Homo sapiens: one gene and its partners. The protein of the gene in region 2 interacts with the protein of the main gene of each other region in a pairwise test. Each region holds a gene or a part of one and is shown on either strand. Other genes may lie near its edges.

Region 1 (3,500 bases), on a different chromosome or scaffold from region 2:
ATGTGTAGTTCCTTTTGCCTTTACTCTTACACTCTTAATCATTTCCAAAGCTACTTATGTCAACACCTTTCCCCCAATTCCCTTCACTGAAGTTGTTTCATATATTTTTAATATAGTTAGACTATTCCTTTCTCAGCACCTACTTGCTTCTTAATTCCTTGCAATCTGGCTTCTACCTCCACCCCCACATTGTTAATGACACTATGTTCTCTCTCAAAGATGTTTTTTTCTTTGGTTCACATCTTTTTCTATGCAGCATAAGACATTGTGGAACTCTTTTTTTTTTTAATTTTTAGGGACAGAGTCTTACTCCATTGCCCAGGCTGGAGTGCAGTGGCATAATCACAGTTTACTGCAGCCTTGAACTCCTGGGCTTAGGCAACCCTCCCACTTCAGCCTAGTTGAGTAGCTAGGACTACAGGTGTGTGCCACCATGCCCAGTTAGTTTTTCTTTAATTTTTTGCAGAGCTGGAATCTTGCTATGTTGTCCAGGCTGGTCTTGAACTCCTGTTCTAAAGCAATCCTCCTGCTCCAGCCTCCCAAAGTGTTCGGATTATAAGCAGGAACCACCATACCTGGCCTGTGCAACTCTTAAATGTTATCAAATTCCAAATTTCTACTGCTGGCCTCACATTTTTAAGAGGATGTTCTACTAACATATTTATACTTAGAATGTCAAAGATTAAATTTAATTCTTTTCAGAACTCACTTATTCTCTTTTTCAGTACCAGCTTCAGCTCCCCAACCCCCAGGCAAAAAAACCTCAAAACACATTTCTGACTCTTCTTAAATCCCTTCTTTTTATAAGAACTGCTGACTCTATCGCTCAAATCTGGCTTGTTTGTTCTTCTTGCTGGCTGCCAATATTCGTTTAAGCCTTCATTAGTGTTCACTGGGATGACTTCAGCAACTTAAAAATTATTTTTTCCACTTTAAACTTGTTAGGTTTTATTTCTCATAGCACCCTGTGGTAAGTGACAGCACTCAATACAGTTTGCAGTTTTACTGTATTTCAGAAGGTTTTTGTTTTTAAATTGTGTTAAGATATACAAAATTTTTGCAAAACTGAAACTCTGTATCCATTAATCACTCCCTATACCACCCTTCCTCCAGCCCTACCATTCTACTTTCTATCTTTATTAATTTGACTAAGTATTCCATGTAAGTGTAATCACACAATATTTGTCTTTGTTACTGGCTTATTTCACTTACCATAATGTCCTCAAGGTTCATCCATGTTGTGGGATGTAAATAACTTCAAAATTTGTCTAATTCTACCTGCCCTCTCCTCCAATTCATCTTACATAATTCTGTCAGATTTACCTTCCTAATGCACAATGCTAGCATTACCCTCATGTGTGAAAATAAATAAAACTGGCCAGGCACAGTGGCTCACGCCTGTAATCTCAGCACTTTGGGAGGCTGAGGTGGGTCAGATTTACCTTCCTAATGCACAATGCTGGCATTACCCTCATGTGTAAAAATAAATAAAACTGGCCAGGTGCAGTGGCTCACGCCTGTAATCTCAGCACTTTGGGAGGCCTGAGGTGAGGAGTTTAAAACCAGCCTGGCCAAAATGTTGAAACCCCATCTCTACTAAAAATACAAAAATTAGCCCGGCGTGGTGGCACACACCTGTAATCCCAGCTACCAGGGAGGATGAGGCAGGAGAATCGCTTGAACCTGGGAGGCAGAGGTTGCAGTGAGCCAAGATCGTGCCACTGCACTCCAGCCTGGGCGGCTGAGCGAGACTCCATCTCAAATAACTAACTTTCATTACTGTCAATAGAACAAAGTGCAGATTCCTTCATTTAGCATCGAAGGCCCTCTATTAGCTGAAATTAGGTAAGGAGTTTTCCCCACTATTTCCTTACTCACCATTCAGTTAATCTAACTCATGAGCTTTCCCTATTTGACTAAACTATTCAGTGTTCTTAGACTGTCTATCTCTTGCATTTCCCCAGTTCAACTTCCTTCACCAAGTTCTACTTAATCCTTTCTGGATTCATGAAACAATCTTTTCCCACCCAAAACATTCACAGCATTCTCTGTAACTCTCTTATACTATTTATTTCCTTCTGTATTAATATTTTTATGTTTCTGTCTTCTTTTTTTGTCCTTAAATTCCTTGTATTTTACCTTGGTACCAATGCCACTGCATTGGCACAGTGTTTTCCAGTGATAATGATGTTGTTGTCATTGAAGATGATGATGATGATGATAGCCCCTAAAGTTTACCAAGTATTGTGGACCAATATATGTCCCCCTCCAAAATTCGTATGTTGAAGCCCTAACTCCTAGTACCTCAGAATGTGACTGTATTTGGAGAGAGGGTCTTTAAAGGGATAAGATTAAATGAGGACAGGCCAGACATGGTGGCTCACACCTATAATCCCAGCACGTTGGGAGGCCGAGGCTAGCGGATCACGAGATCAGGAGTTTGAGACTAGTCTGGCCAACATGGTGAAACCCCGTCTCTACTAAAAAATACAAAAATGAGCTGGGCATGGTGGCACATGCCTGTAGTCCCAGGTACTCAGGAGGCTGAGGCAGGAGAATCACTTGAACCCAGGAGGCGGAAGTTGAAGTGAGCACTCCAGCCTGGGCGACAGAGCGAGACTCTGTCTCAAAAAAAAAAAAAAAAAAAAGAAAGAAAAAAAAAAGATTAAATGAGGACATAAGAGTGGGGCCTAATTCTGTAAGACTATTGTCCTCACATGAAGAAGACAGCAAACCAGGAGTGTGTGTGCTCACAGAAAGGTCCATGTAAGAATAGCCAGACACCTTGATCTTGGATTTCCATGCTCTAAAACTGTGAGAAAATACGCTTCTGTTGTTTAAGCCACCTGTTCTGTGGCATTTTGTTATGGCAGCCTCAGCAAAGTAACATACTAAGCAAGGCACTGTTCTAAAAGCTTATATTAACTCATTTGGTCCTCATAACAACCCAACAACACAGGAACGGGTTTGCACATAGATATTAATATCTACCCATAAGAATGACATAATAGTCATTAGAAAACAATAAAATACAATAAAATTCGGAAACAGAATTTTTTCTTTACTCTTACAAGATTAAAAGCCACTGAGTTGATGTTTTTGGATTGATAATTACTATCCATTTTAACATTAAAAGTAATATCTTTATATCTTTTTAAAAAAAAACCTTTTAGCTTGATTTTTTTGCCAGATACACTAGATATAAAGTTATCCTCAGGAAATTTAATAAAGCCAACCAATCTCATATGTCTCATAAACTAAAAAAAAAAAAATCTATGTACTCTGGAGCTTTCTTTAGAATTACATCCTTAAAGCAGATATACTTTTTGCACTTACATACAGAAGTAGCAGCAGCAATCAATCTTGTATTTGAAACTACTCCAAATTCCTAAAGAAAGAAAAGCAGGTACATGTTAACCCAATGAATCTAAGGGTATCTGAACTCTATTCAAAACAGGATTTCCTTGCTCCTGTTTACAATCTGTTCACCTTCTAACTAC
Region 2 (3,500 bases):
GAGACAGTTCAATAGCAGCAGAAGCGGAATTGGTTTGTTGAACTCTGACGGCAACATCGGAGGAGTGACCCTGACTTCCACTTCTCCAGCCCTTTTACTTTTTTTTGTTGTTGTTTTTTGAGACAGTCTCATTCTGCTGCCCAGGCTGGAGTGCAGTGGCACAATTTCAGTTCACCGTAACCTCTGCCTCCCAGGCTCAGGCAATTCTCCTGCCTCAGCCTCCCTAGTAGCTGGGATTACAGGTATGGGCCCAGCTAATTTTGTATTTTTAGTAGAGACAGGGTTTCACCATGTTGGCCAGGCTTGTCTTGAACTACTGGACTCAGGTGATCTGCCGGCCTCAGCCTCCCAAAGTGCTGGGATTATAGTCATGAGCTACCACGCCCGGCCTCAGCTCTTTTAAGTACTTTTTGCCTAAGTACTTAAATCTCTTTCCACTTAAAATATCCAGAGTGGGTTTCTATTTCCTAGTCTGAACCCTAAATGATACAGTCAGTCACTGGAAAGTTCAGAACTCTAAGAACAGATACTAAACAGAAAGGCTTTTCAGAAAGCCCTTTCATTTTAAACTCAAGATAACAACAGGCCAGGCATGGTAGCTCACATTTGTAATCCCAGCACTTTGGGAGGCCTAGGTGGGAGGATTGCTTGAGGCCAGGAGTTTGAGATCAGTCAGCATAGGCAACATAGCGAGGCCCCATCTCCAACAAAAAAAAGAAAATAAAGTTTAAAAAAATCAAAATAACATTAAGAGATAATTAGGTGTCAGCCAGGTGCGGTGGCTCACCTCTGTAATCCCCGCACTTTGGGAGGCCCGAGATGGGCAGATCACCTGAGGTCAGGAGTTCAAGACCAGCCTGGCCAACAGGGTGAAACCCCAGCTCTACTAAAAATACAAAAATTAGCCGGGCGTGGTGGCAGGCGCCTGTAATCCCAGCTACTTGGGAGGCTGAGGCAGGGGAACGGCTTGAACCCGGGAGGCAGAGGTTGCAGTGAGCCAAGATCATGCCATTGCACTCCAGCTTGGGCAACAAGAGTGAACCTCTATCTCAAAAAAAAAAAGAAAAGAAAAGAAATAATTAGGTGTTGGGAGGCTGAGACAGGTGGATCACCTGAGGTCAGAAGTTCAAGACCAGCCTGGCCAACAAGGTAGAACCCCATCTCTACTAAAAATACAAAAACATTAGCGGGGCGTGGTGGCAGTCACCTGTAGTCCCAGCTACTTGGGAGGCTGAGGCAGGAGAATTGCTTGAACCCAGGAGGCAGAGGTCGCAGTGAGCCGAGAATGCACCACTGCACTCCAGCCTGGGTGACAGAGCGAGACTCCGTCTCAAAAAGAAAAAAAAAAAAGAGAAATAATTAGATGTCACTTACTCTGGTTTTTGAACCCTTAACTAGAACTGCTTCAAAGGTATGGGCACAGAGATCTGTGACTCCCTGCCCAGATGCTGTCATGGAAGCAGCACACGAATCAGGCCTGTCCATGATCAAGCAGCACTGGATGCTTCTCTTCCTTAAATTATCTGCCTGTCTCTTTTATACTTAGGAAGACTGATGATAATAACATCTTCTTGCAATTTTCCCTTTCTCATTTGGGGCACAGAAAGCCCAGGCAGGCTTCCTCTATTTTCTAACAGTGGTATCACATAGTAGCAAGCAAGCAAACATCTTTTTTTTTTTTTTTTTTTGAGATGGAGTCTCGCTCTGTCACCCAGGCTGGAGTGCAGTGGCACAATCTTGGCTCACTGTAACCTCCATCCCCGGGGTTCAAGTGTATCTCCTGCCTCAGCCTCCCAAGTAGCTGGGATTACAGGCATGCGCCACCATGCCCGGCTAATTTTTGTATTTTTAGTAGAGACGGGTTTTCACCATGTTGGCCAGGCTGGTCTCGAACTCCTGACCTCAGCTGATCCACCCGCCTCAGCCTCCCAAAGTGCTGGCATTACAGGCGTGAGCCACCGCGCCTGGCCGCAAACAACTTAAAACATAATGAAAGACACAGAGGGGCTAAGGAAGACCCATCCTTTGGTGCTGTGCTCTACAGTCTTGTAGTAACCTTCCACAGGAATGGCTTACAACACACGTGACAGTTTTGCAAATCTGTATGTTCACAGATGTAAGCAACATTGAAACATGGTAAAAACATAAGCCGCTTAGCCATTTACACAGAACTGACAAAGTTGATTACACCATAAATACCTTAGCACCTTCAGAGTCTCTTTCCACTCCTTCTGAAGACTTTCCCATGTATCAACTTCCACCCATTTAGAATTCTTGGTAGCAAGTTCTGCCATGATGACCCGGTGATAGGCAGGAATGAGTCCTTTCTTCTTGTAGGCATCACCAACAGGAGAGATGATGCCTTTGACAACTGTGTACCTTCCTAGATAAAAAGTTAGGTTTCACACTAGGTATAACAAATTAGACTTTATGCACAGGAAATATTACGATCAATATTATTTGTTTTGTTTTGTTTTTTGAGACAGAGTCTTGCTCTGTTCCCCAGGCCGCACTGGAGTGATCTCGGCTCACTGCAACCTCCGCCTCCTGGGTTGAAGCAATTCTCCTGAGTCAGACTCCTGAGTAGCTGGGATTACGGGCGCATGCCACCATGCTGGTTAATTTTTGTATTTTTAGTAGAGATGGGGTTTTTACCATGTTAGCCAAGCTGGTCTCCAACTCCTGACCTCAAGTGATCTGCCTGCCTCAGCCTCCCAAAGTGCTGGGACTACAGGCATGAGTCACCACACCTGGCCAATATTGTTTTATAATCACAGATTCTCTTTCTTTAGGGATTCCAGCTTATTAGCTGATCAATTAACTGACTGAAATTATGGTAAAATATACCCAAGCGTACAGTTCTATGATATTAACTGCAAACATGCTGTTGTGCAACCATCGCTCCTATCTATCTCCAGAATTTTCTCATCTTCCCCAACTGACACTCTGTACTTCACCTCATTCCCCTATACAGTTAAATTTCTATTGATATTGCCAAATTACTTTGTAAAAAGCCTTAATTTGTATTGTCCACCTAGATGTATGCAAAAGCCCATTTCTCAATGTCATAGGCAAATAGTGAGCTTTAGCATCCATCCATCCATCTACCTATCAGCATATTATATGATCATTTATGTAACAAAAAAATCGAGGCCAGGTGTGGTGGCTCACACCTGTTATCCCAGTGTTTTGGGAGACCAAGGCAGGAGAATCACTTGAGCCCAGGAGCTCAACACCAACATGGGCAAAACAGTGGGACCCAGTTTCTACAAAAAATTAAAAAATTAGGCCAGGCGCGGTGGCTCACTCCTGTAATCCCAGCACTTTGGGAGTTCGAGGCGGGTGGATCACGAGGTCAGGAGATCAAGACCATCCTGGCTAACACGGTGAAACCCTGTCTCTACTAAAAATACAAAAAATTAGCCAGGCATGGTGGCGGGCACCTGTAATCCCAGCTACTCCGGAGGCTGAGGCAGGAGAATGGTGTGAGCCTGGGAGGC
Region 3 (3,500 bases), on a different chromosome or scaffold from region 2:
AGTGCCAGTTTATGAATTTACACTGAGACATATACTTGAGTTTGGAATTCTGCCTCTGAGCAGATCTGTTTGGGAGGCCTCTAATGCTAGTCACTGAGGATAAGGGGCATCTGTAGATGGATCGTGTGTTCAGGGTGACCCTAGGCTGCACCTGCAGGAGAGTATAAAATGGATAAATGTATTCATTCTGGAAGCGGGGTAACCTTCCTTACCAGTTCCGCCAGGACCTGTCGAATAGTTTGAGTGCACTGCTTTAGCTCCAGTAGCTCTGTACCTGTAATATAGGAATCCCTGGATACCAGGATCCAGAGGTAGCCGTCAGAACATCAGGGAACCCTCTAAACTTTGTGCCTGTGGTCCCAGCTACTGGGAAGGCTGAGCAAGGAGGATCACTTGAACTCAGGAGTTCAAGGCAAGCCTGGGCAACATAGTGAGACCCTGTCTTCTTCAAAAAAGAAAAAAAGACTGGAAACTTTGCATACAGGTGTGCACATTCTTCCAACTTTCGAAGGAATTCAAAGCCCCTGAAAAATGAAGGGAAATGAAAAATGCGGTAAGATGCAGTGAGAGACTTTGTTCATCTCATTTGATTAGTTTCCCTCAAAATGAACTTTCATTTTTGGCATTGCATAGCCTAGAAAAGGCATCACTGCTGTGTCCCGAGGTGTGAGTGTCTTTGATTTTTACTGGATAAATGCCAGACTTTTCTAAAGAGGGAGCAGTTCACATTCATGCCAGTGTTTGAGGTTCTCCACATCCTCATGGCCACTTTTAATTTTAGCCATTCTGATGCTTGTCCAGTGGTGTCTCATTGTGGTTTTAATTTGTGCTTTTTTATTACAAATGGGATCAAACACCTTTTCATGTTTATTTTTCTCTTTTGTGAAGTGCCTGTTTAAAACTTCTTTGTTTTATAGCTTTTATTTATTTATTTATTTATTTATTTATTTATTTATTTATTTTGAGACAGAGTCTTGCACTGTTACCCAGGCTGGAGTGCAGTGGCGTGATCTTGGCTCACTGTAAGCTCTGCCTCCTGGGTTCACGCCATTCTCCTGCCTCAGCCTCCAGAGTAGCTGGGACTACAGGCAGCCGCCACCATGCCCGGCTCATTTTTTGTATTTTTTTTTTTTTTTTTTTTTGAGACAGAGTCTCACTCTGTCACCCAGGCTGGAGTGCAGTGGCACGATCTCAGTTCACTCAGTTCACCTCCGCCTCCCGGGTTCAAGCAATTCTCCTGCCTCAGCCTATTGAGTAGCTGGGACTACAGGCACGCACCACCATGCCAGGCTAATTTTTTATATTTTTAGTAGAGATGGGGTTTCACCATGTTGCCCAGGCTGTTCTTGAACTCCTGACCTCAGGTGATCCACTCGCCTTGGCCTCCCAAAGTGCTGGGATTATAAGCATGAGCCGCTGCACCTGGCTGTTACATAGCTTTTTTTTATGCAACTTTCGTATATAAACTTTTTTCATCATAAATAGGACTTTTCACTTTAGTACCTAGCTCATCCCAGTAGCTTTTCCAGAACTGCTGTCTTCACCACAAAGCTCCCTACGTTTTCCCAATGCAAACCTGAGTGTTTTTAGCATTTTAACTTTCCTCACAGAGAAGACATCGTGGAGCGGATAAATAGATTTGCAGGCATTTCTGTGTCTTCTCCAGTGCTGTCTGGAATAATTTTCTCCACCACTTCTTTCAAGTTATTTGTCTGCATCTCTCTTTTTTTTTTTTTTTGAGATGGAGTCTCGCTCTGTTGCCCAAGCTGGAGTACAGTGGTGCGATCTTGGCTCACTGCCAGCTCCGCCTCCTGGGTTCACACCATTCTCCTGCCTCAGCCTCCAGAGTAGCTGGGACTACAGGTGCCCGCCACCACACCCGGCTAATTTTTTGTATTTTTAGTAGAGACGGGGTTTCACCATGTTAGCCAGGATGGTCTCGATCTCCTGACCTCGTGATCCGCCCGCCTCGGCCTCCCAAAGTGCTGGGATTATAGGTGTGAGCCACCGCGCCCGGCCTTGGGTCATGATTTCCATCATCTTAGACCTGTTGGTGCTGAGGTTTTCTTTAACCATTGGTAGTCTAGACATCAACATGAGCTTCAATCATGGTCTGCCTTTTTTTTTTTTTTTTTTTTTTTTTTTTTTGAGACGGTTTCTCACTGTCACTCAGGCTAGAATGCAGTAGCGTGATCTCAGCTCACTGCAGCCTCTGCCTCCTGGGTAGCTGGGACTATAGGCATGCACCACCACGCCCAGCTAATTTTTGTATTTTTTGTAGAGACAGGATTTTGCCATGTTGTCCAGGCTGGTCTCGAACTCCTGACCTCAAGTGATCCACCCGGGTGGTCTGCCATTTTTAAATCACACAACACATTTTGTCATGGGTAAGACCCACGCATGGAAGCTAGGCAGTTTTTGCCCTGAACATCTTGAACAGTCAGCTTGAGTTTTCTGCAAGTCAGCAAGCCTTCAAACATAACCCTTGAGGCCATCAGATACAGTTTTGGTTCCTTGAGTCCTATAAACTTTTTAAATCGTTGAAAAAATTGAACTAGAACAAAGCAAACCATTTGTTGTTTTCTTTTTCCCCCCTGAGACAGAGTCTCGCTCTGTCGCCCACGCTGGAGTGCAGTGGCACAGTCTTGGCTCACTGCAACCTCCATCTCCAGGGTGCCAGCGATTCCCATGTCTCAGCCTCCTGAGTAGCTGGGATTACAGGTACACACCACCACGGCCAGCTAATTTTTGTATTTTTAGGAGAGACGGTTTTGCCATGTTGACCAGGCTGGTCTTGAACTCCTGGCCTCAAGTGATATACCTGACTCAGCCTCCCAAAGTGCTAGGATTACAGACGTGAGCCACCATGTCCGGCCTCCTTGGTTGCTTTTTAACAGCAAATAATCTTTTTTTTTTTTCCAAGTTGTGTGCTTTCTCCAAATTTGTTTTTTTTCTTCTTCTTCTTCTTTTTTTTTCCCTTGAAACAGGGTCTCACTTTGTTACCCAGGCTGGAGTGCAGTGGTGCCATCACGGCTCACTGCAGCCTGTACCTTCTGGGCTCAATTGAGCTTCCTGCCTCAGCCTCCTAAGTAGCTGGGACTATAGGGGTATGTCACCATCCCTGGCTGATTTTTTATATTTTTTTGGAGAGACAAGGTCTTACCGTATTGCCCAGGGTGGTCTCAAACTCCTGGGCTCAAGTGATCCTCCCACCTTGGTTTCCCAAAGTGCTGGGATTGTAGTTGTGAGCCACTGAGCCTGACCTTGGGTCACTTTTCATGAGCATTTTCAGTATGCCAGTCTCTGCTCTGGCTAGAAGCAATGCAGTGGTAGAAAAGAGACTGGCAACTCTCTTTAAGGAATCGAGATTCTTTAAGGGGAAGGTTATTGAAAATGTTACTTAGGCTGTTTTTCTTAAATTTCCAAAGATTGTCTCTTAGTAAGGTTGATTTTTCTGGAATCTTTTTTTGGTCTGTTTCTATAATGTATGAATAAGTCAC
Region 4 (3,500 bases), on a different chromosome or scaffold from region 2:
CAGCCGGGTGCGGTGGCTCATGCCTGTAATCCCAGTATTTTGGGAGGCAGAGGCAGACGGATCATGATAGGATATCGAGATCATCCTGGCCAACATGGTGAAATCCTATCTCTACTAAAAATACAAAAAAGGCCGGGCGCAGTGGCTCACGCCTGTAATCCCAGCACTTTGGGAGGCCGAGGCAGGAGGATCACAAGGTCAGGAGATCGAGATCCTGGCTAACACAGTGAAACACCGTCTCTACTAAAAATACAAAAAATTAGCTGGGCACGGTGGCGAGCGCCTGTAGTCCCAACTACTTGGGAGGCTGAGGCAGGAGAATGGCGTGAACCCGGGAGGCGGCGCTTGCAGTGAGCCGAGATAGCGCCACTGTACTCCAGCCTGGGCGACAGAGTGAGACTCCATCTCAAAAAAAAAAAAAAAATACAAAAATTAGCTGGGGGTGGTGGCGTGTAACTGTAATCCCAGCTACTCGGGAGACTGAGGCAGGAAAATCGCTTGAACCAGGGAGTCGGAGGTTGCAGTGAGCCAAGATCGCGCCCAGCCTGCACTCCAGACTGGCAACAGAGCCGTCTTTAAAAAAAAAAAAAAAGGTAATCACCCTGCCCACCAGTAAATGCATTCCTAACTTTCAGTGGTAAATTGCTAACATTAAAATCAACAATCATAACTCTTTCAAGGAGTATTTTTAAAGTCACTCTATAAAAAAAAGTCAGTCTCTCAATTTGAATTAACATGATACTGACTACTATTCACTATAAAGTCTTTTATAAAATAACCCAAAAATGAAAATAATTCTGTTTTCTGATCCTGGTGAGATCCCACAAATAAATAGGAAACTTAAAATTTAGGCATGGTTCACAATTACATATATGTCTGTATTTTTATTCTTTTATTGATAAAAATACTCCAACACAAATTACCTGTGGTATGAAAAACAGACTATGGGAAAGTAATTTTGTAGAGAGATGAAAAAATATACTGAACATATTCATAGCTCACCTTTTGAAAGCAGCTTCCTGAATTTCTGTGTTGCTGAAAGCTGTTGCTCTGGGCTTTTGGAAAATATCATTTCAATCATGTCAGAAGTGATGACACCACCCTGCGATCACAAACAAAAAGAACATATAATAAATTATCACCCTTAATTCAAAGGAAAGAAAGATAACAGATATCATGGCCAAGTTATTAAGTTAATCATACTTCCCCAGAAGTTACATAAAGGTAGGACAATCTTTACATATAGAAACGTGTAAGATTATTAATAATATAATGAAGCCAAATTCTTTGTCTATCATTAAAAAGCTCACAGTAGAAAGTGATCTTACTAGTAAATAAGACAAGGAGCTTATTGCTCTTCCCCTCCTTGCTCATCACATAGCTGGCTATTCTTTCTTATCAAAATTAAATGTTAAGTTTTAAAAGATGGCTTTTCAAGACCTCCAAGCCTAAAGTAGCCACTTTATCTCTATCACAGCACCATATTTCAATCGTATGCCCCAGCCCTTATTACACTCCCAGATATTTTTCTGTGTTCCTCCAGTATACTGTAACTTCCTTGTAAGCCCAAGACCCTGTCTGTCTTACTCTATCACTAAGGGCTGGTGTACTGTAAATGCTCTGCAATACTTATTGAGTGAGTAAATAGAGTGGTCCTGTATAAATCCAGCCACTGCCAAATTCAACAGCTGACTCTTAAACTTATTTAAAATTTCTTTCTTGTTTTATTAAAACTTTCCAGTTTCCCACTACCTTCTTGCTTTATTAGAATGTTTCCATTTCCCACCATAACTCATCCCCAGTATTAGCAGTTAATTTTCTTCTCAGGGTCATTTGTCAGAAAGAAACAAAGTTCTTATTTCATGAAGGGTAGCAGTCAACAAGATGAATTGTGAAGAAAGCTGCACTAAGCTGTAAATGCTAGATGACTGGTAAGCAATACCTAAGAATCCTCATAGGGGAATATATGACGCATTCTACTCAAGAATCAGAAAAGTAACTATTTTCAAAATTGCAAGACTGATTCCTAAATCAAGGTTTCTATATGATTTGTTATGAATATGTTTGCATAAACACATTCATATATATATATACACACATTAAGCAAATATCTTTTTCTTCCCTCTCTCATCCTCTTATAGCAAGCTGTACTGACTTTACATTACACTATTTAAGTATTGTTAACTTTACATTATAATATTTAAGTCACAGGCTATCAAGGACAGGAGTGAACATCACCCAAAGATTTTGCATCCTCTTCCGCAGAAGGAGTTAGTAAAGATGTGCCTCAACTTACAATGAATGGGGTTATGCCCCACTAATCCCATCATAAGTTGAAAATATTAAGTAAAAAGTACACTTAATACACCTAACCTACCAAACTTCATTGCCTAGCCTAGCCTACCTTAAACATGCTCAGAACACATACATTAGCCTACAGCTGAACAAATGATCTAACACAAAGCCTATTTTATAATAAAGTGGTTGACTATCTCGTGTAATTTACTTAATACTGTACTGAAAATGAGAAACAGAGTGACTGTATGGGTATTCAAAATACAGTTCCTACTGATTGCATATTGCTTTCACACCACTGTAAAGTTGAAAAATCCTGACTTGAACCCTCCTAAGTCAAGAACCATCCATACATTTTTAGTTGCACAAAGGAAAGTTGTAATCTGGCTGGGTGCGGTGGCTCACGCCTGTAATCCCAACACTTTGGGAAGCCAAGGCGGGTGGATCACGAGGTCAGGAGTTCAAGACCAACCTGGCCAATATGGTGAAACCCTGTCTCTACTAAAACTACAAAAAAATTAGCTGGGGGTAGTGGCGCACGCCTGTAGTCCAAGTTGGCCTCATCCAATCAGTTGAAACCCTTAAAAGCAAAGACTAGGTTTTCTGAAGAAAAGGGATTCAACAACATCAACTCTTAACCTGAATTTATAGTGGGCCAGTGTGCCCTACAGATTTCACACTTGCCAGCTCCCAAAGACACGAGCCACTTTCTTAAACTAAATTTCTTTCTCTCATTGGTTCTGTTTCTCTGGAGAACCCTAATACAATCCATAAAACACTTTATATTCACTTAACACTCTCTTCTTAAAAAAATTGGAAAGACTGGCTTTCTGAAGGGCCTAGAAACTTTCATCACAAAATGATGGCATTGGCTATGTCTGTATGAATTCCAAAGGAAATAATACTACCCTCCCAACTCTCAAAGAAAGCTGGTTCATGTAAACTGGAGATCTATGAAATGAAATAAAAATAAAAACTACAAAATACTATGAATAGTATGCCACCATTTACCAAAAAAAAAGGTGGGGGAGAGGAGAACATTTTAATATACAAAAGTTCTCAGAAAGAATAAATAGGAATTTAGTAATACTAGTTGCCAATGGAGAAAAATACTAGGTGGCTAAGCGGAAGAAAGATTTTTCTTCATTTTTTTTAATTGTACTTTTTTTGTTACTACAAACAACAGTACCTTTTAGGAGATAATT

What was found.
Region 1: the proteins of NMNAT1 (region 2) and CCNC interact in binary tests that used the Homo sapiens proteins (3 or more experiments, as listed by UniProt).
Region 3: the proteins of NMNAT1 (region 2) and RNF4 interact in binary tests that used the Homo sapiens proteins (3 or more experiments, as listed by UniProt).
Region 4: the proteins of NMNAT1 (region 2) and KPNA1 interact in binary tests that used the Homo sapiens proteins (3 or more experiments, as listed by UniProt).

What each region holds. Positions count from the first base shown.
Region 1 is NC_000006.12:99,555,161-99,558,660, forward strand, and holds part of CCNC (cyclin-C), read right to left. Parts: intron 3,389-3,500; coding exon 3,337-3,388; intron 1-3,336. UniProt on the Homo sapiens protein: Component of the Mediator complex, a coactivator involved in regulated gene transcription of nearly all RNA polymerase II-dependent genes.
Region 2 is NC_000001.11:9,974,475-9,977,974, reverse strand, and holds part of NMNAT1 (nicotinamide/nicotinic acid mononucleotide adenylyltransferase 1), read right to left. Parts: intron 2,384-3,500; coding exon 2,200-2,383; intron 1-2,199.
Region 3 is NC_000004.12:2,503,606-2,507,105, forward strand, and holds part of RNF4 (E3 ubiquitin-protein ligase RNF4), read left to right. Parts: intron 1-3,500. UniProt on the Homo sapiens protein: E3 ubiquitin-protein ligase which binds polysumoylated chains covalently attached to proteins and mediates 'Lys-6'-, 'Lys-11'-, 'Lys-48'- and 'Lys-63'-linked polyubiquitination of those substrates and their subsequent targeting to the proteasome for degradation.
Region 4 is NC_000003.12:122,462,940-122,466,439, forward strand, and holds part of KPNA1 (importin subunit alpha-5), read right to left. Parts: intron 1,103-3,500; coding exon 1,003-1,102; intron 1-1,002. UniProt on the Homo sapiens protein: Functions in nuclear protein import as an adapter protein for nuclear receptor KPNB1. Binds specifically and directly to substrates containing either a simple or bipartite NLS motif.